2 linked regions of the Homo sapiens genome follow. The main gene of each other region encodes a partner of the protein of the gene in region 2 in a complex. Each region holds a gene or a part of one and is shown on either strand. Other genes may lie near its edges.

Region 1 (10,433 bases), on a different chromosome or scaffold from region 2:
TACAGCAGCCAAGTCAGGGTTCTGTTGGCTTCATTTTTAATGTGTCTTACAAAATTATTGTGTAAGTTGTTTAAAATAACACTTATGATTGTCTAAATAGTAGTAAAAATGTGAATTTGAACATAAACCTAATATTGTGCTACAGATTTTTTCAGTTAATTTTTAAGAGTTGTCACTGCATTTAAGAACCATCCTCTAATTTTAATATGCACTCTGATTTTCAAAAGGGTGTTTTTGCTTGTAAATAACTTGTGCCAGTATTACTGAATACGTTTCTATATAAGTTTTTGCAGACTTTAATAGTTATGACATAAATTTTTATCAGAGTGGTTCTCAGTTCAACACAAAATAAAAATGAAATATTTACTCTTAAGAGTAGCAAAAACATAGAATCTGAAAAATAATTTTTTTCCAGTTATCTCAAATCTTAACTTTTCTGTCATAAGTCCCATACATATAGAGCTCCCTTTAAAGTTATAAGTCAAAGTGGACAGAGAAGACATAAAATAAGCTGTATAATAGCAGTTTGGACCTGACTGCTGGTTTGCAAAAATGACATAATAGTGTAAAGTTTTTAATCTTTTTCCTAGCAGAAGTATAAAATGTGTTCACCACATTGAAAAAATGGATTCATAATTGCAATTGAAAAATCAACTTTAGATATCCTGTGCACACCCTATGTATATAAAATAGTACTAATCAATACTAATATGGTCATTTGAAATTAAATTTTAAAGAAATGCCAAAATGGTGATTATATTCTGTCTAACCAACCCTATAACATAATTATATTCAGTGGAATAGTATAGAAAAATAATATTTATTATTATTATTATTATTACACTTTAAATTTTAGGGTACATGTGCACAATGTGCAGGTTAGTTACATATGTATACATGTGCCATGCTGGTGTGCTGCACCCATTAACTCGTCATTTAGCATTATTTTTTTAAGATTTCTTAATTTGGTTCAAGATTATCTAAAGCCCACTTTCTGGTTAGCGGTAACGTGCAAATCAACTGTGGTGACATTTAAATCCGAGAAAACATTTTTCCGTATTACTTTCAGTATTATTAAAATAGATATGAAAGATTTTGGTGCATCATAGTTGATCCATAAATTTCATAACTGTATTTTCTCAAAATGTACTGTCTGTGGCAGTAGACTGATACTTAAGGGAAATTATTTTTATCCCTAAGGTCATTGAGGGAAATATCGTGATGTCACACTTTGTTGATCTTTCATAACTACGTTAAAATATTATTAGATTTTTCTTGTCTTTTATTTTTAAAAAATTACAGGAAAAAATCCCTTTATCTTTGTCAGGCATGTGTGTGGAAAATATCAAAAGTTTTTAGTGACTTCTTAAAGTTTTTTCATATTTACAAATACCTCTCCTTTAATTATAAACTTTAAAATGAAATTACTGCTCTTCTTGGCCAGATTACACTGTTTGTTCATATGTACATGTTTCTCCCAATGTTATATTGTCTTTTCAATATTATCTTTTTTTATTTTGTAATAAGAGAAATTCTAGAATGACAACAAGAAACAGGATCCTGTTTTGCTGAAAGTGTATAGTAAATATTAATTGGTTTAACTTTCTCAATTTCAACATTAAAAATATACTCATAATTTTTTGGAGTATTATGTCTTTAAGTTACAGATTTTAGTTATTTACAGTTAAAGTGTTGATAGGTGTTTCTGTCTTTCTGTATTCATATACATATATATACATACACAAACATATATCTATACATACATAACACTTTTTATAATTACTTTTGGAGAATATAGGGGTTCCTATTTAAAGCAATATTATAAAATTAATAAAATTCAAATATAATTTTTATGATACCAAATTCAGAGATAATCAAGAGTGACTATGAAAACCTAGAGTAGTATCTAGTCTGCCTTCTAACCTCAGTTGTGCTGTTAATTTGCAAAATCTATATTCCCATATGTAGATAGGATGGAATTTATGATGGTCAGATCTATTTCTTTGAATCTTTGAGTGGGATGGATCATCAAAATTTAGCCATTGCTTTAGGTAACCTTTTTTAGCTCAATGTCCTTTAAAAGTTATTTAAACTACTCAGGCTTTGAAATGATCTGAAATAAAATATTTTAGCTCCTTAGAAGATAGTTATTTTATAAATATCTTAAATATTAGTAAGTGCCAACAGAAGAATTAGTTGCCTGCAATATGTAACATAAGCTATAAATCTGTTTATTTAATGGTTTGGTTTTTGTTTTTGTTTTTTTTGAGACAGAGGCTGGAGTGCAGTGGCGCAATCTTGGCTCACTGCAACCTCCACCTCCCGGGTTCAAGCAATTCTCCTGCCTCAGCCTCTCAAGTAGCTGGGATTACAGGCCCATGCCACCACTCCTGGCTGATTTTTGTATTTTTGGTAAAGACAGGATTTCACCATGTTGGCCAGGCTGATCTCAAACTCCTGACCTCAGGTAATCCACCCACCTCAGCCTCCCAAATTGCTGCGGTTACAGATTTGAGTCACCATACCTGGCTAATTAATGTTTTTAAAAACAGATTCCTACGCATATTAATTTATCATTAGATTAGCCTGAAATTATAGGCAGCCAGATATGTTCTATTTGATACTTTGAACTTGGAAATTTGGCTTATATGTTGTTGACCAAGAGGCAAGTAATAATCTTAAATAAGACCCACTAACCTTTTGTGATAACTGCTGGTTCAGTTTCCACATAGAACATTCACTGAGATGTGAAATTTTTGTAATGAAAATAATAAAATAATAATTGTGCTATTACTGAGTGCCAGACACTGTGCTCGGTACTGTACATACATTATGAAATTAAAAAATGCTTACCCAGAGTCACCTGGTACTTTGTCAAGCTAGTATTTCAACCTAGACTGATCTGATTTCAGAGGGCATGATCTTAACTATTACAGTTACCCATTTAGTCTAAATATTTTCATCCCCTTCCTGCTGTTGATAGAGAGATATTGCCCAATAACCTGTCATATTTACAAATTATAAATTGTTAAAGATTTTTATTTTAAGGGTTTTACTTTCCCACCCATTGAAAAATCTCTTTTCCCCCATATATCTTTAAGGTTGCCAGGGGAGAAGTATGAGCTTTGGAATCAAACTAATCTGGATTTAAATCCTAGTTCTGCCAGTTGTTATCCATATAAATGCAAATTAATCAATTCTCCCAATTTTTTCCTTTGTAAGGAGGAGGTAAAATATGACAAGCTTGGCCTGATTTGTTCTAAATCTAAAATACTAGTAGTTCTTGAATGTATCTTAAAATGAAACCACATGTTTGCCTTTATTTCTCTACTATTTTAAATTATGTTATTTCCTGGCCAGGCATGGTGGCTCACGCCTGTAATCCCAACCCTTTGGGAGGCTGAGGCAGGCAGATCACTTGAGGCCAAGAGTTCAAGACCAGCCTGGCCAACATGGCAAAACCCTTCTCTACTAAAAACACAAAAATTAGCTGGGCATGATGGCATGCGCCTATAATCCCAGCTACTCAGGAGGCTGAGGCAGGAGAATCACTTGAACCCGGGAGGCAGAGGCTGCAGTGAGCTGAAATCGCGCCACTGCACTCCAGCCTGGGTAACAGAGTGAGACTCCCTCTCAAAATAAAGAAATAAAAATAAAAAATAAATTGTGTTATTTCCTTTATGATATTCAGTGCCATCCATGCTAATCTTAATAACTTATCAACTCCTTTAAAAATATTAAAAGCAAGGTTATTTGGGTAGCCTTTAACCTTTAATATAAGGTTATATTTTATAGGACTATCAACATAAGAGAGGATAAATTTCCTTCAAACTAAATTTAATGGTATGTTGTGCTTTTCACATTTGAACAATAATATTTTGTATAGGTGGTCATTTTCTTCAAAAATGTTCCTCATTTCTATCCCTTCGTTTCTAATCCTCATCTGTTCTGATTCAAAATGTATCAGCTTTTATTTTTCTCTGTTTAATAGCATTATTATGTAGCTATACTTACTGTGCTCCTACTATGTGCCAATATCTTTGCATATGTAATCTTAATCCCTGGGATGACTTGACAAAATTGCAAGTATTAGCTCCATTTTACGAATACAAAAATGTCTCAAGTCAGTTTGCCCAAGATCAAACAGCTGGTAAAGTGACAGAGTCGGCATTTAATCTAGGACTGTCTAACCTATGCCCATGTTCTTTCTAACAAATCACATCGTCGCTGGAGTTCAGTATTAATTGAAATTGCTTTTAAAGATATAATATTTTATAGGGCTATATCTGCCCAATAATTAGCAGCTTTAAACCAGTCATACCTGTCACCAAACAGTACAAACGAAACCACAATAAAAAATGATCTTTTGAGCTCCCTCTTATAATCCCTATATATCCCAAAAGTCATATCCATTATGTTAATTGTAATAATAGTTTATTGTAATCAATGTGCAATATATGAATCAATTTATCCCATCAGATTACACAGTCTGTGTGAGCACTGTAAGAATGTTAGTAACAGATACGGTATGCACAAACATAGGAGCTCATGTGTACTTTTAAAACCTCATCCTTGAGGATATATTAATAATAGAAATAAATCAGCATTCTTTATGACTCAAGTAGTATAAATCAATAGGTAGAGTAGGATGTGAAATGAAATGTAGGTTGTTACTACATTTTTTACATCTAAAATTGAGGTCTTTCTACTGTAAATTATTTATAGAGTTTGGGAATGTTGAATATATACCACAAATGTAATTTGCTAAATTGTTAGGAAGTACTGATAACTATACACCACACACACTAAAAATCCTTATTTGACTCTGTTGAGTGAAGGGAGATTTCACTTTAAAGGCAGTGAGGAAGACATGGAAGAATTGTTTTTGAGGAAAATATTATTTGAGTTTGCCATAATGTAGAGCAATGCTCTCTGATAAAGCCCTCCTTCTATGGTGATGGAAATGTTCTATATCTGCACTGTCTAATGTGGAAGCCGCTAACTACATGTGGCTGTTGAACAATTGAAATGTGGCTAGTGTACTGAGGAACTGAATTTTTATTTAATTCATTTTAATTCAATAAATTTAAACTTAATGTGGCTGTGGCTACCACATTGGACAATGCAGCTCTAGAGATTTTATGTCTGAGTGATTAGGATAACATGCCAACAGTACAGTGAACACTTTAAAAGGTAGATATTTACAGAATCTCTCATAGACCTTTTTTCTTCTTTTCTTTTTTCCTATTTGAACTTGTTTTGTTAGTTGGTAAGTATAACATTTGAATTTACAAAGCATTGTCATTGTGAACCATCACCCTAATGCATTGCATGCCCAATTATATTTCATAATAAAAACCTTGATTCCTCTCTCTCTGCTCCTCAGTTAACACCTAGAAAATTCTGCACTGTGTCTCTCATATCTGTTATCTATCTTCTCTTTTGCTTTCTCACTTCTGCTTGCTACTCCATTTCTTCATTCACAACAAAGAAAGAAATGCAGTGATAGTTCTCTTCCTCCCAAAACCTCCGCTAGAAAACATTGGCCATCTCAAGGTAAACAGCAATGGGAGGGCCTCTCGTGATGGCCGGGAATGATATGCATTACCAGAAAAGCATGAGCTACTACTGCTCTTCACTTTCCTTCTGCCATCCATCTGCAGTGCTTCCCTAAAGGGGGTCATGGATTCATATTCTCCCATAAATTTTCCAGTATGGGTCTGCTATGAACCAATTCAGATCTTCAGGAAGAGTAAAGGTGAACAGAAATATGTTTCCTTCTCCTTGTATTTTGAAGGCCAGTCTTATTTCAATTAGAAAATAATGCTGGAAAAGTTACTTTGAGAAGAAGGGCAATTGACCTGGATTATGAGTGACAGAATATTTTTCCTTGGAAACATATATTTTTTCTTAAGTATAACTCTAACATTTGGTCTTAAAAACTTTTTGAAGGCCGGGTGCGGTGGCTCACGCCTGCAATCCCAGCACTTTGGGAGGCCCAGGAGGGTGGATCATGAGATCAGGAGATTGAGACCATCCTGGCCAACATGGTGAAACTCCATCTCTACTAAAATACAAAAAAATTAGCCGGGCGTGGTGGTGCGCACCTGTGGTCCCAGCTACTCAAGAGGCTGAGGCAGGGGAATCGCTTGAACCCGGGCAGTGGAGATTGCAGTGAGCCAAGATCGTGCCACTGCACTCCAGCCTGGCGACAGAGTGAGACTCCGTCTCAAAAAAAAAAAAAAAAAAAAAAAATTGAAGTGTTCTGCAAAGACATATTCTTAATTGCTTAAGACATCTCAATAGGATCTTCACCCCTTACTGAACTTTTTGTTTTTGTTTATAAACATTCAGTAACTTCAGTTTAAGCACAAAACATTTCATAGATATGAAAGTGCTAGCATAATTATTTCCTAGTTTGAAGTATCAATGAGGTGCTACATTGGCTAACAAATATGCTGAAAGTCTCCCTGTAAAGTAAGGACATGTATGTGTACAGTTAAACCTGCAACCTGTGTGGTGTTTTTGTTTGTAAAACACATAAAGAAAATTTTCATGTACTTAAGACCCAGAAAATCTGGATTAAAATGCCTTAAAATATCCAGAATCTCTTGCTGTTATTGTTTTCAGATTTTTTTTTCTGAAGGACTTTTATTTTTAATGTGATTTTAATTAATTACTCATTTTGTTTAGGAAATATTTGAAAGCCTACAGTGTGCAAGGTTCTGTAGTATTGCTGCATATTAGAGAATGATAATTTATAGAAATAAAGCACAGAGATGAAAAACTACTTTATAAATGACACAAAGAACTTTCCTATTTGATTTTGTTTTACTTCTAAAATTGTATATCTACTAATTCTACTGGTTACCTGCTTGCTTATGATTGAATAAGATACCTGCAAAAGTTTAAGTTAATGAAAACAAAAGCATTGTTTATGTCTTTTAAATTAAGACATTTTGGGGGAGTCAGTTTGCCTTTTTTTAACTGACATTCAGAGGAGAATTCTTGTCCTCCCCTCATCCACAAATTTATCTTGCTCCTTCTTAAAGCCGTCTTTAAATACCTAGCATGTATATGATCTCATAGTGCTGAGTTCCTTTTTTTGTTTTGTTTTGTTTATAAGGGCATCTAGTGAAACTGACTTCCTTTTTGAAACCCGTGGTTCCAAAACTGTTTGGAACTGTTTGGTGCTGTTTTTCAAGTTTGAGTAGTGAAGGCTCTTTTCTTGGTTGTACCCTGAATCCTAGAGATAGGAATTGGTCCTTCTCACCTGCTTCTTGACCCCTTCCCTGCATGCTGATGGTGCTTTGGATCCCTGTTCTTTCTGGCTCAAAGATTTTGCTTCCCACTGCTTTTTCCAGGGTTCTAGCCCTGGGAATGATGATTGGCGCTTTCTTGCTAATATAATGACATGAGCCACCAGATTGCTGGGTTTTAAATACATTAGTAGGCTATTGTAACAAGCAAGTTTGGGGCTTGCTTTTTCCCTCGAAAGATCTTATTAAGGGATGGGATCCTTGCTGCAGATTAGTAGCAGAAAGATTATTTCTCAGGGGATGAGAGGCTGGATAACTGTAGTAATGCTCTTGCTGTTTCCTACAGGCTCCTACCCAGAGATTCTACCCAGTGAAACTCCCACAGCAACGCAGGTAGATGGGGCTGACCTGGCCTCTCCAATGTCTCCTCGAACTAGCAAAAGCCGCATGTCCATGAAGCTGCGTCGTTCCTCTGGCTCAGCCAATAAATCCTAAGGAGACAAGCAGCCCAGCAGTGATCAGCAGTAGCCACCTTAGCACGAACATAGGGTTAACCCTTTCAGGCCTTCATGTCTGCCATAACATGCATGTTTCTTCCTGTACATTTATTTGAGAAAACACTGGATTTAAATAATTTTAAATAATTTGTAGCTTAATATTAAAGATTTAAGTTATTTATTGTTTCATTTTTTTTCCCACAATCCAAGCTGCCATATTTTGAGGGCAGGGGGAGTTTTATTCTACACCCTTTACCTTCCTAGATAATTATGTCTAAGTAGTTTTATCTTTAATTTCATGGTTAACTGTGAGCCAAAATACAATTGGACAATTAGTCTCATTATTTATTGTGCCCCATTGCAACTTTATGGTTCAATAAATATATAATTTTTTACAAATGTAAAATTTTACATTTAAGCATTTGTAAAGTTACAGCAAAAGATGTACCTGTTAATACACAGAATGTGTACAGATTATTTGTTATGACAATAAAACACTCAAAATAAATGGTCTTTAGCATCTCAAATTCCAACTGAAATCATTTTAGTATTAACTCTTCTTCCCAAAGCAATGTCTCATTTCTTGGCTGTGCAGGTGATGCCATGTTATATCCAATAACTAGAAAAATCACTGTGCTGAACTTTTATGTTTAGCTTCCAAGTATTTTTCTAATGTTTTGCATTTCAAGTGGTATCACTGTTAAATGCCATTTGTTTTCAGATTGTGGCCTTTTATTATTGGCTGCTAGATCCTGGTGTTTCTATGTTCTTTTTTAAGCACCAAAAAGAAGATGGGGAAGAAAAGAAGGAAAATTTTCTGATATAAATATGTTGTTCAAATTATGAGTATTATTTAAAAAAGAAAAAGGAACATAACCCAGGAGTCTAAGTTAAATCTAATATTGTTAATACTGAACTTGCAGGTCCAGGTTGGTATACATTCCACCCTCTAGAAGTATTTTCTTACAGTAGATAAGCTGCTCACATTTTGTTTTGAATGGGCATCTCCTGAGGAAATGTAGCATGACATTGGTACTAACTGCATGTGTAAATACATCATACTGGCAAACCGTAAAATATAAATTATGTATCATCATTCATGTAGTATCTATAATTTGTAACAGTGGGGGGGAAAGATGACATGGTATTTAATAATACAATAAAAATATTCTTATCACTTCCTATCCATGAGTGTTGATTTGTCTTCTATGTTTCATATATTTTCAATAAGCAGGGCTATATGAGTAGTGAGGAGATTTAAAGCATGAACCTAGATTATCTTAGCTAATCATCAAAAATAAACTTGAATTCCCTTTTCAAGATACATTCCAACTTATTTCTCACAGATCCTACCACAGTCGTTAAAAACACAGGAAATTTTCTGTCTTCATAAAGGCTGGCCAGAAATTCACCCAATGCAGTTGGTTAGATTGTTAGTTTATCTCAGCTTCATGTTTTTGTTTTGTTTTGTTTTGCTTTTTGAGACGGAGTCTCCCTGTCACCCAGGCTGGCGCGATCTCGGCTCACTGCAACCTCCGCCTCCCAGGTTCAAGCAGTTCTCCTACCTCAGCCTCCTGAGTAGCTGGAACTATAGGCGTGTGCCACCACGCCCGGCTAATTTTTTTGTTTTGTTTTGTTTTTTGTTTTTTGTTTTTTAGTAGAAACGGGGTTTCACCGTGTTAGCCAGGATGGTCTCCATCTCCTGACCTCGTGATCCGCCCACCTCGGCCTCCCAAAGTGCTGGGATTACAGCTTCATGTTTTTTTGATTCTTAAATTTTACTTTGTTTTATAATATACTTTCAGCAATAAAACTTCGTACTAACAAGTTTCTAAGACAATCTTTCAGAAATTCTGTGCACCCAATTTCATTTTCTTATAAATGAAAACTAAAAGTCCTATGTAAGCTGATGTAGAAGATAAACAAATGGATAGAGTCCTTGGGAAGAAGATTGAACAATGTAGACAATTTCCTACAGCCAAGGTGAAGAATTACAAAAAGGAAAATCAGAGTAACTGCATACATGTTTCTAAAGTGCTATAAAAAATCTAATGGATTGATGATATATAACAATATGGAGTAAAAATACAAACCTGAAATAATGAAATTAATTAGCACCATTAAAATACTTCTTTTCATCTTCAGGTAACACTGTTCACTAGCTTGAAATATATATATATATATATTTAAAATATGTTTTCGGTTGACATTTCTTGGGGGGGATGTCTTTTTTAGATTCAAAGACTAGTGCATATTCCTTGCTTTTTGCAGCTCAGTCTTTGCAGCCATACTTCAAAGGAAAATTTTTCATTGCATTCCTGCACCATCACATTCATTTGCAAAATATTTCCGTCTTTGTATTCTGTCCAAATGGGTCACTAACATTCTAAAACAGGATACCGACATTGGGGAGATAAGAAATGTGGCTTTGAAAATAGGCTGTGTTCAACAGGATTCTTAAGACAAACACAGAACACAACAAAAGCACAGTCTATGTACATTTATTTGGTGGTAAGCATCTTACAAATACGGGCTTTCTGTCAGGCAGTGCTCAGCCAATGTCCCAAACTGGCTAGTAGGGAATTAGTACACAATGTACACTGAAATGGTTTTTTAAAAAAATCAAAAACAAGTTGCCGCTGAAAAGAAAATACTGAATATTGAGCAAATTGCCATT
Region 2 (16,408 bases):
CTCAAAGACAGTGTGGTCCTGTATGTCTCACAAATGGCTGTTTTTTATTTTCTGTACCAGTAACTGCTTCTCGCAAAGTTATGATGTCCATCCTGGAGGATCTTTGAGGTAAGCTCTAAGTGGTGGTAAGAACACCTTAGGTTTTATTGCTTATTTTGTTTCTTACAGCTTAGGTAAGTCACAGCCTCTGACAACTATTCCCATAACTGAAAAATAAGGATTTGAACCATATCATCCCAGACAGTAGCACCTGGTTATCGGCTCTTTGTTCACAAAATATTTTACGTATTTCCTCAATTATATATTATATGTAAGATAATCCTGCTCATCTTACTGTCAAGAAAACACCTAGATGTTAGAGAAAATGCAAAGAAAGTGAAACTCTCATACACTGGGAATGTAAAATGATTCAGTCACTGTGAAAAACAGTTTGGCAGTTCCTCAAAAAGTTAAACATAGGGTTACCATATGACCCAGTAATTCTGCTCCTAGTGTACACCCGAAGAACTGAAAACTGGTATTCAAACAAATACATGTACATACATGTTCACAGCAGCACTACTGACAACAGCCTAGAGATTAAAACAACCCAAATGTCCATCAAGTGATAAATGGGTAAACTGGGGTATATACACACAATGAAATATTATCCAATCATAAAAGGGAATACAGTTCTGACACATTCTACAACATAAATGAAACTCAAAAACATTACATTTAGTGAAAGAAACCAGACACAAAAGGTCACACATTGTATGATTCCATTTATATGAAATGTCCAGTATAGGTAGACCCATTGAGATGAAATGGTGGTTGTCAGAGGAGGGGGTGCGGAGACTGAAGCAAAACTGCTTCATGGGTATGGGGTTTCCTTTAGGGATGATAAAAACATTTTGGAACTAGAAGTAGAAGTTGCTCAACATTGTGAATGTACCAACAGTCACTGAATTGTTTGCTTTTAAATGGCTAATTTTATATTACACAAATTTCATCTCAAAAGAATACACTTAGAGAAGCACAAATGACCACCAAGTTCTAAGTTTCCAAAAAACTGAAGTAACGGCTGGGAAAGAAATCTAAAAAGTGTAGCCAAGGCCAGGTGCAGTAGCTCACACCTGGAATCCTAGCACTTTGGGAGGCCAAGGCGGGTGGATCACCTGAGGTCAGAAGTTCGAGATCAGCCTGGCCAACATGGTGAAACCCCATCTCTACTAAAAACACAAAAATTAGCTGGCTGTGATGGCGTATGCCTGTAATCCCAGCTAGTTGGAGGCTGAGGCAGGGGGATTGCTTGGAAGCGGAGGCTGCAGTGCAACAAGTTTGCACGACTACGCTACAGACTGGGCGACAGAGCAAGACTCCGTCTCAAAAAAAAAAAAAAAAAGGTGTAGCCAGTTTTCACTTATCTCTGATAATGGAGGATGGCAGAGCCACAGGTAATCCCAAATGGCATACATTAGGATAATCATTTTTTACAAAATCAATATGCATTCTAGTATTATATGCAAATAAATAAATGGCAAGTATTGAAATGTTTCCTATAATTTAACGGTAAAAATCTCATTCATACTCTTTGAACCTATTTTTAAAAAGTAAAGTTCATTGCATAGAATATCACTTGGAGGCTAAATTTTGTACACTTTGGATATAATATAAACTATGTTTGAGCATGATCAACACTAAAATACCCACACAAGGGGTTAAGAGATACAGAAAAAACAGCCAAGGCCCAAGGCTGTTGGGTTAAAATAAAAGGACTGTCTTCCTCACCTTTGCAAGGCCAGAGAGGAGCTCTAGAGCTGCCAGTGATATGCTCATGTCTTGGCGCCACTGGGAGTTGAGTCTTTGGGTGACGAGATGAATGCTGCGAATCAGGAGCCCAGCAGCTGAATCTGTATTAAGAGCTAGGATATAACCCCAATGCCACATCCCACAGGGAGGGAAAACAACTAAGCATTAGTAACGAGAAGCACAGCATCCACTAGGCACAGACCACAGCAGCCACAGTGAGAACGACGGGCACCCACACAGTGCTACGCTCCCCACCCCACTGGGTTGAGTGCCAAGCCTGACTACACGGTGCACAGGCACATGTGCTAGACCAGAGCAGCTTCTAGTTCCTGGTTCACGCACTTTGACACAACCGTGGGATTTGGCAGTTTCAGTGTCATTTTCATAACAACGTAATTTAAAGTTTCTAAATTATCAACTCATAGCTACATTTTCAAAAAGAGTGATGAAAAGGCTATCAATTATTTCCTTGAAACTTTACAGAGGAAAGTTCTAATTTTACGGCCTCCTCAGATGCTAGGAATTACTCTGAAGCAAGCATCTGTTGAAATTACTTACAGGGTTTAAGCCATCAAAACTCACATGCAATGCCTTTTCAAACATACTTTAACATTTAATTCTCCAGGATTACTTTAATACTTCTAAAAAAATTAAATAACCAAGCCACCATATTTTTATTTGGGCTCCAATCTATATGTAAAAGCAATCACTAGTTAGCTAATAGGAAATTAGGAAAAATTAAATAAAGACAAATTAAACTGAATTTATAAAGGAAGCTTTAGGGACATTATACCTGTCGATCCTATCAGAAAGAGGGCAGTGACAACAGAAAAAGGAATGATCATTAAAGAGAGACACTCATGCGACACTAACACAAATCAGGATTTCTTAGTAAAAAATATTTTACGACATTACAAGCAGAGCTCACTAACACCAGCTCAAAATGCTGAAACAAACAATAATCACTTAAAACATTTATATTAGAACACATGCAGTAATGAAAAATTTCTTTTTTTGTTTTTGTTTTCTGTTTTTTTTTTTTTTTTTTGAGATGGAGTCTCGCTCTGTTGCCCAGGCTGGAGTACAGTGGCGCAATCTTGGCTCACTGCAACCTCTGCCTCCCAGGTTCAAGAGAGTCTCCTACCTTGGCCTCCAGAGTAACTGGGATTACAGGCACCCACCCCCACCCCCAGCTAATTTTTGTATTTTTAGTAGAGATGGGGTTTCACCACGTTGGCCAGGCTGGTCTCGAACTCCTGACCTCAGGTGATCCGCCCACCTTGGCCTCCCAAAGTGCTGGGATTACAGGAGTGAGCCACTGCGCCCAGCCAGTACTGAAAAATTTATTTAGCTTAAATGTGTTTCAGAAAGCATGAAAAATAATTTTCAACCTATAGAATACCTAAATCTACATACACAGTGAATAAGATAATTTAAATAACTTCTTCACGAATATAATATTTAAATGTGTCAAATATCCACATAATGGCTTTATGTATATCTGACATGTTCAAGGATACTTGTTGCAAACTTAAACCATAGAAACATGCCTCATGAATTCATGAACTCATGAACATGGCTCATGACATGCCTCATGAACCTCATGAACATGGCTCATGAACTCTCCAGATGATTAAAGGATTAAACTCACATCTAAGAATCTAGATATCACTCCAATCTAGCTGGATAAGTGCTCACAGATTTAATACACTGTTAGTACTTGTGTAGAAAAACATAAAGGTACCCACAAACTCACAGAATCCATAAAACAACTGCCCAAGGTAGGGGACAACCTTGTATAGGATGCTTGGCTGGCAAATGTTTTACTTGGCAGGGCAGAAAATAAAAATGTTTCAGGGCTAAAGAATCTAGTGAGCTACAGTAGGGGGTACACAGGTTTTAACATGAAGACATGCTCTCCTCTGGGCTGCTATCTAATCCATCCCCCATTACCCTCCTTGCCACACTGCAATAACTGGCTTATTGGACATCTCTGCCACTACACTGTGAGCTCTGAGGCAGAGTCCACATCTTATTTGGTTCTCTACCACCACACATGGTAGAGAATTCAGAAATGTTTACTGATCACCCATTACTATCAATTATAAAACCTAATATACTACCCCAAATCTAATATACTACCCAAAAGCTATACAGCTAAATCAAAAAGATTTGTTTTTTCTTAGCTTCTTAAGACTGACATCCTCTCTATTATACTTAAGTATATAAAAAACATGAACATTAACATTTTTAATGTTTTTGTTTTATAAATGTAAGCATTAAAGTCATTCTATTAAACTTTGAATTTCAAAAGAAACACGACTAACCATAATCTCTTAAGAGAGCTTGAGCAGGTCTCTCACTATCGGGAGTCGTGGGCTCCGTGCTTCCACCACTTGCTGAACTAATACCACTATTGGTGCGACTATGACTCTTCAGGTTATTTTCTCCACCACCCTAGTCAAATGAAAATGAATCAAGTGAGGATTACATCACAGTTTACAAGCATAAATAAAGGTCAATCATTAAAAACCATGTTGATAAAGCAGAATGTGCCAACTGAATAGTACAAACTGATAGTAACAGAAATTGACAAGGGATTAAAACCACTGTGGTATTTTTACACACACAAATCTACTGGAGGGTATGAAGGATTTGTACTACTACAAGTGCCCATACTGGGGTCTTCTTTGCCACTATTTACAAAGGGCTGGCCCAGCTTTTTCATCTTTACTAGACTTCACTAGATTCCAGGTCCTTAAAAAGAATACCCTAGTGCCTCCCAAGCAAAACCTCAGAACAGAAATATAAGCTTAAAAAGCATGAATAAGGCCAGGCGCGCTGGCTCACACCTGTAATCCCGGCACTTTGGGAGGCCGAGGCAGGCGGATCACGAGGTCAGGAGATCGAGACCATCCTGGCTAACACAGTGAAACCCCATCTCTATTAAAAAATACAAAAAAATTAGCCGGGCGCAGTGGCAGGCGCCTGTAGTCCCAGCTACTCGGGAGGCTGAGGCAGAAGAATGGCAGGAACCTGGGAGGCGGAGTTTGCAGCGAGCAGAGATTGCGCCACTGCACTCAAGCCTGGGAGTCAGAGCGAGACTCTGTCTCAAAACCAAAGCAAAACAAAACAAAACAAAAAACAAAAAGGCATGAATAAACAAACGGCAACTTTCAAATACAGTTATATCAGAAAACACAAACAATACTAGGGTTAGTTTTAACTCCCGTATGTATAGGGGCTAATAAACCTATCTGTTAGACTTCCCTCATTTTTCCCCATATAAACACAGTTCATTATATTCAGATCAGTAAATTATTATTCACCATCTACTGAGACACGAATGTAATTTCCGTAATAATAATTTGATCACCCATCTTACATCTACTCAGCTTACTACATCTACCCAACTTACCCCAGTATACCCTATTAACCCCTCCATTGTCTTGCCTATACTCCAAGTATAGGGATGATATATCTTGAAGACAAAGCAGAGAGCACTGGAAGTCTCTGAGAAGCATTTTTGATTTGGAAGCATTGGTGCTTTGAGGGACCTGCAAACTTAGGTCTAGAGGGGTTAGAAAGAATTGATGGGTAAGAAAAAGTTAAACTAGTTGCTTGCTGGCTAGGGCTTTTCCTAGGTTATTCAACCAAGTTTGCCACCACAGCAAAACAAGTAACAGTTTTAAGCAGACACTGTTCAGGAATAAAGACTGGATTTAGCTGTAGTTTCTCTCATACAGAATATCTCGGGAACCTGATGTACAGCTGAAGAGGCACTGAAAAGCAAACCTCAAAATATACATTATTTTTAAAAAGAAAACTTCTGAGCCAATGAGCAGGATTTACAAACCAAAGGCCTTTAAAATTCACAAAGATGGACATTCTGGAATATAATTTACATGAAATTCAAAAGTGATATTCTCTGACAGATTGCATGTATGCTTCTTACCATCTCCATCTGGCAACCAATGGCTTCCAAAAGTGCTGAATCTTGAACAATATTTAACATTGCCCCTACAACAACAATAAAACAGTATTTTATATAAAATACACAAGAACACTAAAATGCGTAAGACATTTTATATGATTAATAGTACAGATAAGAATATAATTTTGGTTGAGCATTCCTGAAATACCCATGAAATTATAGTTGGCTCTTAAACAAGAGCTTGAACTGTACATATGCAGGTTTTTTTCAATAAACATGTTAGAAAGTTTTTTGGAGATCTGTGACAATTTGAAAAAACTCCCAAACTGCATAGCCTAGAAATATTAAAAAAAAAAAAAAATGGCCAGGCACAGTGGTTCATGCCTATAATCCCAGCACTTTGGGTGGCCGAAGTGGGGCGGGAGGTCAAGAGTTCGAGACTAGCCTGGTCAACATGGTGAAACCCCATCTCTACTAAAAATACAAAAATTAGCCGGGTATGGTGGTGTGCGCCTGTAATCTCAGCTACTCAGGAGGCTGAGGCAGGGGAATTGCTTGAACCTGGGAGGTGGAGGTTGCAGTGAGCCGAAATTGCACCACTGCTCTCCAGCCTGGACAACAGAGCGAGACTTCATCTCAAAAAAAAAAAAAGAGAAAGAAAAGAAATATTTAAAAAAGTATAAAAAGTTAAAATTGGCCGGGCATACTAGCTCATGCCTGTAATTCTAGCACTTTGGGAGGCCGAGTCAGCAGGATTGCTTGAAGTCCTAGGAGTTTGAGACCAGAGTGGGCAACAAAGCAAGACCCTGTCTCTAAAAATAAATAAAAAATAAAAAGCTAAAATTTATCAAAAAACTTACGTACACAAACACTTACAGACCATACATGATGCCATTTGCAGTCCAGAGAAATGTAAACAAAGATGTAGTATTAAATAACTGTATAAAATTAGCTGTAGTACATACTGCACTACTGTAATCATTTTGTAGCCTCCTCCTGTTGTTACTGGGGTGAGCTCAAGTGTTAATGAGTATGCTGCTTAAAATACAATGTGATGCTAACCATCTCCATGTGAGTAGTTCATCTCTCTAACAGACTGAACACTGCAGTAAATTGCATACCATGGTTCTCACATGTTTTCATCATGTTTACTGCAACACCATGAACCTTGACTAACGCCATGGGACCCATAGGAAGTGCCACTAGTGATGCTGGAAGTGCTCCCAAGAAGCAGAGAAAAGTCATGACATTACAAGAAAAAGCTGAGTTGCTTGATATGTACTGTAGATTGGGGTCTACAGCTACAACTGCCCAACAGTTGAGACGATTTATCTTATAAACAGACAATTTATGGTATCAATAAATACAGTACTGTAAATGTATTTTCTCTTCCTTATGATTTTCTTTTTTTTGAGATGGAGCCTCACTCCGTCACCCAGGCTGGAGTCCAGTAGCGTGATCTTGGCTCACTGCAACCTCCACCTCCCGGGTTCAAGCAATTCTCTGCCTCGGCCTCCGAGTAGCTGGAATTACAGGCGCCTGCCACCACGCCTGGCTAATTTTTTTTTTCTTTTTTGTATTTTGAGTAGAGACGGGGTTTCACCATCTTGGCCAGGCTGGTCTTGAACTCCTCACCTCGTGATCCACCCACCTCGGCCTCCCAAAGTTCTGGGATTACAGGCATGAGCCACCACGCCCAAGCTTTATTTTTATTTTTATTTTATTTTTTTTTTTTGAGACGGAGTTTCGCTCTTATTGCCCAGGCTGCAGTGCAATGGCATGATCTTGGCTCACTGCAACCTCCGCCTCCCGTGTTCAAACATTCTCCTATCTCAGCCTCCCAAGTAGCTGAGACTACAGGCATGTGCCATCACACCCTGCTAATTTTTGTATTTTTAGTAGATACAGGGTTTCACCATGCTGGCCAGGGTGGTCTCGTGAGTCACCCACCTCAGCTTCCCAAAATGCTGGGATTACAACATGTATTTCTTAATAAAATATTCTTTTCTCCAGCATACTTTATTGTAAAAATGCAGTATATATTAATAATATGCATAAAATACAAAATATGTGTTAATCAACTGGTATGGGTAAGGTTTCTGGTCAACAGTAGGCTATCAGTAGTTAAGTTTTTAGGGAATCAAAAAGTTATATGTGGATCTCAACTACTCAGGGAATTGGCATCACTAACACCCATGTTGTTCAAGGGTCAACTCTACTAATAAATCCACTGATTGGTCAGAAGAGACTCTTTAAAAATTCCTTAATTCTGGCCAGGTGCATTGGTTCATGCCTATAATCCCAGCACTTTGGAAGGGTAAGGCAGGTAGATCATTTGCTATCAGGAGTTCAAGACCAGCTTGGCCAACATGGTAAAATCCTGTGTCTACTAAAAAATACAAAAATTAGCTGGGCGTGGTGGCGGGTGCCAGTAATCCCAGGTACTCAGGAGGGTGAGGTGGAAGAATTGCTTGAACCCAGGAGGCAGAGGTTGCAATAAGCCAAGATCATGCCACTGCCCTCTAGCCTGGGTGACACAGCGAGACTCCATCTCAAAAAAAAAAAATTCCCTAAAATAAATGTGGGCCAGGCACAGTGGCTCACACCTGTAATCCCAGCATTTTGGGAGGCTAAGGAGGGAGGACTGGAGAAGCCCAGAAGTCCGAGACCAGCCTGGGCAACAGAGCAAGACCCTATTCTAACAACAACAAAAAATTAGCCAGGTGTGGTGGCACACGCCTGTGGTCCCAGCTACTTCAGAGGTTGCGGCAGAAGAATCACTTGAGTCCAGGAGCTTGGGCTGCAGTGACCCATGATTGCACCACTGCGCTCCAGCCTGGGCAACAGAGCAAGAACTTGTATTTAAATAAATAAATAAATAAATAAATAAATAAATAAATAAATAAAAATAAAATGAATGTGAAGGTCAAACTTGCTTTATATAAAAACATGCTCATTATCAGATATTTTTTAACTGGTGTAAAAGACCAGATGTAAGCATCTCAATTTCAAGGGTAATATAAACTAAGGAAAATATTATGGAATACTTTCAAAACTAGGTTCTAGTCTTAAAAATAAAACAAACATTACTGTCTGTTTTTTCTACAGGGAAAAAGAAACAAATAAATAAAACAAAAATTACAAAATAAAGTCACAGCAATAGCTTTCTGACCACACTGCTTTTTAAGAATGATTAAAGCCACACAGTCTGGGGCTTGTTGACATCTGCATACCCTGAAGTAAGCTTCATTTATTTATTATCAAGGAAACCATTGTCCTGGAAAGGCTAGGACAGAAATGAGATGGTGAGCCTAACACACTGCTTCTCATCCCCGTGGGAGGTACTCTTGCCCACTATGGATAAAGAGAAGATGGAAAGAGCTTTGCCACTTTATGGCAAGAGTAACAACTGACTCTTCCTTGGAAAGTACATAGGGAGTGCCTCAGAGCAAGGGTGTAACAAAACCAAATACTGCTTCAATCGTAGAAATTATATAATTTCAAGCAAAATTATGTTATTTAAATAACCTAAAACATTGTAACTTGGAGGTTCTCACATATCAAAACATCCCCCTCCACATAAACCACCCTCTGTGTTCAGAATGTATCTGAGATATTATCAATGCCACTGGTAGACTCTGGTTCCAAACCTTGGTCAGACTGACCACATTAACTTCAGAAGGTCTCTAAAAGCCCAGCCTGAACAAGAATATAGCTATACATCATAACTGAGAATGTAAAGAGCAAAAAACTCCATTTGTGAGTCTAGAAAATCATGTCCACAATTAATGGCTTTTGAGACTTACGAAACCCTAAAAAACTTTTTGCCCAGCTACAGACAACTCCAGTCACCTACTAATTAGGTGTCTCTGGATAAATATGGTTCTTGGCCGTTGTGACCCATCTCTTCAGGATCTGTCCCTCAGTTTTAGAGGCCTTTTAGAAACCATTTCAAGGATTGTGTTCCTGTTGGAAGGACATACACCCCACCTCCTCTGGGGGCATAAGGGCTTAAAGGGAATGTCTGATCCCACTTTTGAACAGATAAAAATCTAAGATGCTAGGAAGAAGCTGAATTCTAGTCTTGCTAATGAAGAGAAGAAAGAAAGCCTCTAACCACTGCCAAGGTCAAGTCATCCTCAGAGATCAATTGCTCCATAAGCGGGGAGTTCTAACTGCCACCCAGGTTTGTGGGCTGGGATGGTATTTGCATTCACATGGTTCAGTGGGGACTCCTGTTAGGTGGCTGAGGAAAGCCCTACTTTCCTAAGAGCTTCCACTGTCAAGGGTGGTGATCTCAATACCCAGGATTGCACTTTAGTGGCACTGAGACACAGAAGCAACAACTGAAAACCCTTTGCTTTCAAATGTAATACATTGCTGTTTACCCAATTTGAACATCAGATTAGAGGAAGAAAAGAAGAGCTCCTCTGTTCATCAGGGTCTCTCTGAAGATTTTCAGGGAGATAAGACTGTCCCTTAGTGCTAACACTAGATTTGTCAATCACCAAATACCTTATGATATATTTTGAAAAACATGTAAAAAGCGGGGAGTTTAAGCATTTAAGCAAACAAGATAATTTCAGGTTTTGTGTTGTGAAAAAAATGATGAAATAAGATAATCTTTAGCAAGTATTGTTAGGGAAGCTCTCTCTTAAGAAGATGATGAAGAAAAGCTAAACAAAAATCTAGGGAAAGAACACCCCAGCAGGAGGGATATAAAGTAAGGTTCTGAAGAAATCATTAGCTGATGTGTTTGAGAAAAAAAGGACTAGGACGAAAGTGCAGACTGATGAGACCTGTAAGTAATGGGCAGGAGTAAGAGGAAGAGGCAAGAAGAAGAGGAAGAGGCAGGAGGAAGAGGACGAGGCGGGAGGAAGAGAAAGAGGCAGGAGGAAGGAGAGCAGGAAGAAAGGAGGAAAGAAGAGAGGGATGGGAAGGAGAGGCAAAGAGTGGAGAAAGGAGAGAAGGGAGAAGAGAAAGAAAAGCAAAAGCACAAATAAATGACCAACCAAGACAACTGTAACACTTTACTTCCCTCATCTCACTGCTTTAAATTTTTTTACATTAAAAAACTAACTTGTGCCTCTGATTCAGAGTAAGTAGAGCTACATTAGGTTTAGGCTCCCATTACCGACTGCCGCCTCCTCAGCAGGCCTGTAGTCAACAGTACTTTGGTTTCACTTACAAAATAACGTGTGAATACAAACCTAATATCATTTGGGTGTTGTTGGGGTCCGTTTCAGTTTGCAAGGCACCTATTAATATATTCACAAGTCTCAACTTCAGGGACAGAAAAGTTATTGGTTTATCATAAGAAGAGCTGTCATCGTTACTAAACTTTCCTTCCAGGACCACCTATGGAAAAAACAAATAATATTTAACATCAGCTGTTGCAGCTTATGATGCCCATGTGGGAACAGCTAGATGGAGGAACGGATCAGTATAATGAGAAAGGCTTTCAGTCTAATATTAGCCACTGTGCTGAATCTGTCACTAACAATATGTTAATAGATGTCCTTAGCCTATAACTGCTTGAAAACTGGTAGAAAAACTGACAGAACAAAAAAAAAAAATCACAAGTCAACTTTGTTAATTCACTTGAAATAACTTGATGAAATAACTTGAATTGAAAAATAAAAAAAGCTCCTGTTTCATTTTTAACATTCGATTTGACTTAAATTAGTACAAAAAACAGAATATAGGATATAAAAAAACTTTAACAAAACATTACCTCAGATTTGACTGTGCCAAAATGATGAGGGAGGGGCAACAAAGAAAGCAGGATATTAATGGAGGATCTTCGCAATTCTGTTGGATTTACATAGCTTTTGAATTTTGAGAGTTCTCTGCCAAAAAATAAAAAGCTATTAGTATTTTTGAACTAAAGCACATTTTTAGCTACTGCCAAATACATATAATGCCAATTTTTCCAAATCCAAGCATTGTGTATTTGTATATTGTATATTTCTAAGTTAAACTGTTACTGAATTAAACTAGAAGTTGATTGATTGATTTCTTTACCTAAAACGTAAGGCCTACTCTACAAAGGTAAGACCTCTGTGTTGGAGTTGTTCTTACCCTTCTAGACCAGGCCAAAAACGATTCAACAAGCCCACAGACAAATGAGAACTGAAGGATTTCAGGGATGAGGTGGGTTTGGACACACTACACTCATTTAATGTCGCCTGAGTTCTCTTGGACTATGAAGACAACTGGACAGGATACATTAGGAAACTGGGGAGGAAGCACCAACAGACCAGGCCAAATCAGACAGTTGATATAATAGCAGAGAATGATAGCTTACCTGTCAGGCAAAATGGTTTCAAGAGCTGAAATAAAGTAAGGAACCACAACATCAATCCCTTTCAAGTCACAGCAGAACAAAGGAGGAGAGTTTAGAATAACGCTGGCCAAGACAGGATGGCACACATAATCATTTATCTGCAAACCTTGAATTAAAAGCATGTAAAATCTAGGAAAGCAAGAAAAAAATTTTAAACAAACTGCTGATCAAAAGTTTTCATAATTATTATTTGCTACATAGTTAACTGAAAGTCTATTTCCACTCATCACTATTTTTACCCTTTAAAGAAAGGACATTATTGGAATTACTGGAATTTATTAGAATTTTACCCTTTAAAAGTTATTACTGGAATTACTGGAATTTTACCCTTTAAAGGATATTACTGGAATTAGAACAATTCTGAATCATATACACTAAGACCCAAATCATCTTTCTTAATGAAGAAAAAAAAAAATTCATGTCTGTTGCACCTTCTCAAACCTTAAGCCTTGCAACTCAAAGTTCTAGGGGCCTGCAAATAAGGCAACCAGAACAAAACAAAACAACAGGCTGCAGTACTTTTCAATAAACTGGGGGAACTGCTGAGTTAAATTCCGTAAGAGAAAAATGTTGCAACATTTAGTAATTCCTAGGGAAAAAGGTGTGTTTACATTTTTGTCCCTTCCCCATTATTTTTGGGGGGACAATGAAAGAAAGAAACCTGCATTCGATCATCTGTATTCATCATGAAGGTCACCTGAATAAGATTCCTTTTAGGAATATACCTGAATATAGCTTAGTTTTTAACTCCACCCCCAACCTCTAATCAACTTACTAAGCATTCAATCTCCCGTTATTCAACAGCAGCTGCACTGTTATACTCTTCTATTGTGAGGTGAGTTTCTCTTCTCTGCAAAACTCTTCAGAAACAACTTCATCACCTACTGGTTACTGCTCAACCCATTTCAATCTATCTCTCTCCCTAGAACTCAACTAAAACCATACTAGCAAATAACCAATGGGCTCTCGATTGCCAAATCCAAGAGACATGACTAAGTCTTAACTCATTCTGCCTTTTGAAAGCATTCAGCCCTCTAACTACTCCCTTCTCTCCTTGCTCTTCCCTGATTTCTATGACCATTTTCTTTTACAGGTCCTCTTACTCTACCTGCCCCCTAAAGATGGTGTTCCTCAGTCTGACAACCTTAGTTCTCAAAGCTCTCTCTTTTACTAACCTGATTTTAAACACTTCTTAAGTCACTAAATATAATCAAATCATTCTAACCCACACCTCTCAACTGAACTCCAGATCTATTACCCAAAAGCTTACTGGATATCTGGATGTCTAGTGATTATTATGGTACTTCTGTGCACAATATCTGGCACAAAGTAGGACTTAATAAATATTTGTTGATAAATATCCCATAGGCACTTCAAATTCAATCGATTCAAAACTAAACTAATAACTTGCCCTCTCATGAATCTGTTGTTTTGGTTTGTCCTACTACCACCCATTCAGTCTTATGGCTCAGTCAGAAAGTTCATGGTGATAGCCTTCTCCCCTACTACCAAAGTACCATTTAGGATATCTCCCCAGCCCAGAGTTCCTGAGAAACATGCCCCCACAACAAGTGGGTGAGCTCCAACACCCTTATGTGACCCACCTTCACAACTGTAGCTGACTAGACCAGAGACAGGCAGATTAATTAGATCCTCCTTCCCAGGAGTCTATAATTAAAATTCAGAGATACTAATTGGTCCTGATGGTCACCTAGACCAAGGCCATGAAAACTGGGAACTTTTTTTTTTTTTTGAGACGGAGTCTCACTCTGTCGCCCAGGCTGGAGTGCAGTGGCACAATCTCGGCTCACTGCAACCTCCGCCTCCTGGGTTGAAGCGATTCTTCTGCCTCAGCTTCCCGAGTAGCTGGGACTACAGGCAAATGCCATCATGCCCGGCTAATGAAAACTGGGAACTCAGAAGCACACTACAATAAGAGAAAATGATCTGCAGAGAAGAGAAGAATGAAGCAGTTCTGGCAGACCAGGAAGACAGAGAAAGAGAGAGGAATAAAGTTGTTTTGGTCCTTGAGTATCTGCTCTTCATGAGGCCATACTGCATTTCCTGACCTTAGAATTTAATAAATATCACTAGCTTCTCACAACTTCTTCTCCTTTTACTTAAGTCAGATTGAGAGGGTTTCTGTTGCTTAAACCAAGCGCCGATAGTTATGATAACCCTGCCTATTTGCCTGTATATACCATTCTTTTTCATATCTATAAAATTCTGTACTTGGTTCCCTCTGATAGGGTCAGTTTAATTCTATCTCCTGAGAACCTAGCAAGTATGCAGATATCTAAATACTCTGTTGATATTAACCTCACTTCTGCACTTGTGTGAATGATCAGTTAAGGAAGGCAAAACAGTGTCAAGAAGAACGGGAGGCCATTATGAGTTAATTTAGGAGAAAAGTGACAAAGTCTAAAGTATAATGGTGGGGATAGAGTGAAAAGAGAGATCAGAAAGAGAGTTAAGTAGCAGGAAGGCAAGAGTTGGTTGATCGGTTGATCAACTAAAGATACAGAAGAAGAGGATTCTAAAATGACTCTTCGTTTCTGGCCTGAGCAACTGAATGGATGGCAGAGGCATTAACAAAGATGGCTGAAGCCATAGATTTGGAGAAGATGACCCTAACCAACTTTCTAACATAGGCTAAATGCTACTCATCCTTTATAAGTCCAGCATAATCATTTAATCCCCCAAAACTCTTTCCTGAATCCCCTACAGTAAATAAATGTGCGCTGCTTCTTCCCCTGAATGCCCACAGCACATTATCTGTGCCTCTCCCATCAATATCCTAATTCCTGCTGGATCATTGTTACATGTGTACACGGCTTTGTTTGGGGCTTTGCCCAGAAAATAAGCTCCTTGGAGGCAGGATTTACAGCTGACTTATTTCTGGACTGCCTACATGGGAATACTGTGCTAAAAATTTGTTAACAAATAATTGTGGTCCTTCGAAATCTCTCCATATTAAAAAGATTCAAATAAGATGACATAAATAGCACTTCTAAAACAAAAAGGGTCTTAAGGGTCTTTACCAAATCTGATGAGACAGGTAAAATGAAAGATTTCAGGCAAATGTCGATCACTTACAGACATCTGTAGGTATTTCAGACCAACATCACTCATCGGTTCAGTCGGCCAACCAACAATGGCTTCACTATCAAAACTATATAAATGAAAAAACAAACAAAAATTCCAAGACCTGGATAAATAAGCTGGCAGAATCTCTTCTCCAGTCTTCTTGCTACAAAAAATCCTACACAGTGTCCCACAAGCCTCAGCTCTTCCTGCTTCATAGTTATCAGGAAATTCACTTGCATCAAACATAGGATTGGAAACCATGGTGTCTGTGGACATTTGTGACCCTTTCCGTCGAAACTCCATGCTAGCTTGTGTTGTAATGGCTGGGGAGAGAAAAGGAGGGTTTTATTATATTTGCAATATGCCACGTAGGCTCATGGGACCCTGGACACAAAGATCAAATATTGGTGTCATTAAATAGCTACTTGAATCCAATAAGTGCTTTTGTTTAGCAACTATGTCTTAATATTTTTAAAAAGGGCTCTCTGAAATCTTCTTTGAAAATAGGTTACAATTAATTTACAGTGGCATTGTCAGTTTAACAGATGGTACAAGAAGCATTTTTCAACTGAATTTTTGATCAGCAGAGTACATTTGTATATATCTGTATCCACATACAGATATATAATACAGAATTTGGCTTTTCTATTATTTCTTTTCTGTTTTTTCTTCCCCCTACAGAATGATGCTTAAACGTTAAGAAAAATAGCTACTGCAATTTACACATTACCCCAGATGGACATCCTAATTAAATGGGCAACCCTATGCCAGTCTGTATACTTTAGGGAGAGGGCAAAGTAAGGATGAGAAGTGGGCAGGGAGAAAAAGAGAGCATTCCCACCACCCACCCAACTCCAAAACACACACCAAAGAATCGCTCAACCAAGCAAAATGAGAATGAATTTTAACAACCACAGACAGCAGCTAACTTGAGGCTGATAAATCAGAAAATTGGATTGATAAAAAAGATTATCATGGTCATTTGTTATCACTGAAACAGAAGCCCTTTGAAAGTTGCTTTTATTTTTAACAAAAGATTTCACAGTGTATTGAAAATCACTCTGAAATCTTTTATTACTCTACATGAAATGCTTAAATTATTTTATAATAGATTTAATAGAATACAGAGTCAAGCATAAATCTTTATGCAACTTCCCATGAGCCATTTTTAGTCCTAAATAAGCTATCCAGCAATAATACATTTGAAAAACACTACATGCAGAATGCATACAAATCAAACACTAAATCTG

What was found.
Region 1: RALGAPB (region 2) and RALGAPA1 share a complex: the UniProt entries of both Homo sapiens proteins name them as parts of the heterodimeric RalGAP1 complex.

What each region holds. Positions count from the first base shown.
Region 1 is NC_000014.9:35,536,863-35,547,295, reverse strand, and holds the end of RALGAPA1 (ral GTPase-activating protein subunit alpha-1), read left to right. Parts: intron 1-3,795; exon of another isoform or gene 3,796-5,254; intron 5,255-5,266; coding exon of another isoform or gene 5,267-5,269; intron 5,270-7,605; coding exon of another isoform or gene 7,606-7,754; 3' UTR 7,755-8,940; downstream 8,941-10,433. UniProt on the Homo sapiens protein: Catalytic subunit of the heterodimeric RalGAP1 complex which acts as a GTPase activator for the Ras-like small GTPases RALA and RALB.
Region 2 is NC_000020.11:38,520,570-38,536,977, reverse strand, and holds part of RALGAPB (ral GTPase-activating protein subunit beta), read right to left. Parts: intron 15,482-16,408; coding exon 15,280-15,481; intron 12,201-15,279; coding exon 12,033-12,200; intron 11,575-12,032; coding exon 11,460-11,574; intron 11,084-11,459; coding exon 10,936-11,083; intron 5,812-10,935; coding exon 5,747-5,811; intron 4,249-5,746; coding exon 4,119-4,248; intron 1,905-4,118; coding exon 1,771-1,904; intron 1,766-1,770; exon of another isoform or gene 1-1,765. UniProt on the Homo sapiens protein: Non-catalytic subunit of the heterodimeric RalGAP1 and RalGAP2 complexes which act as GTPase activators for the Ras-like small GTPases RALA and RALB.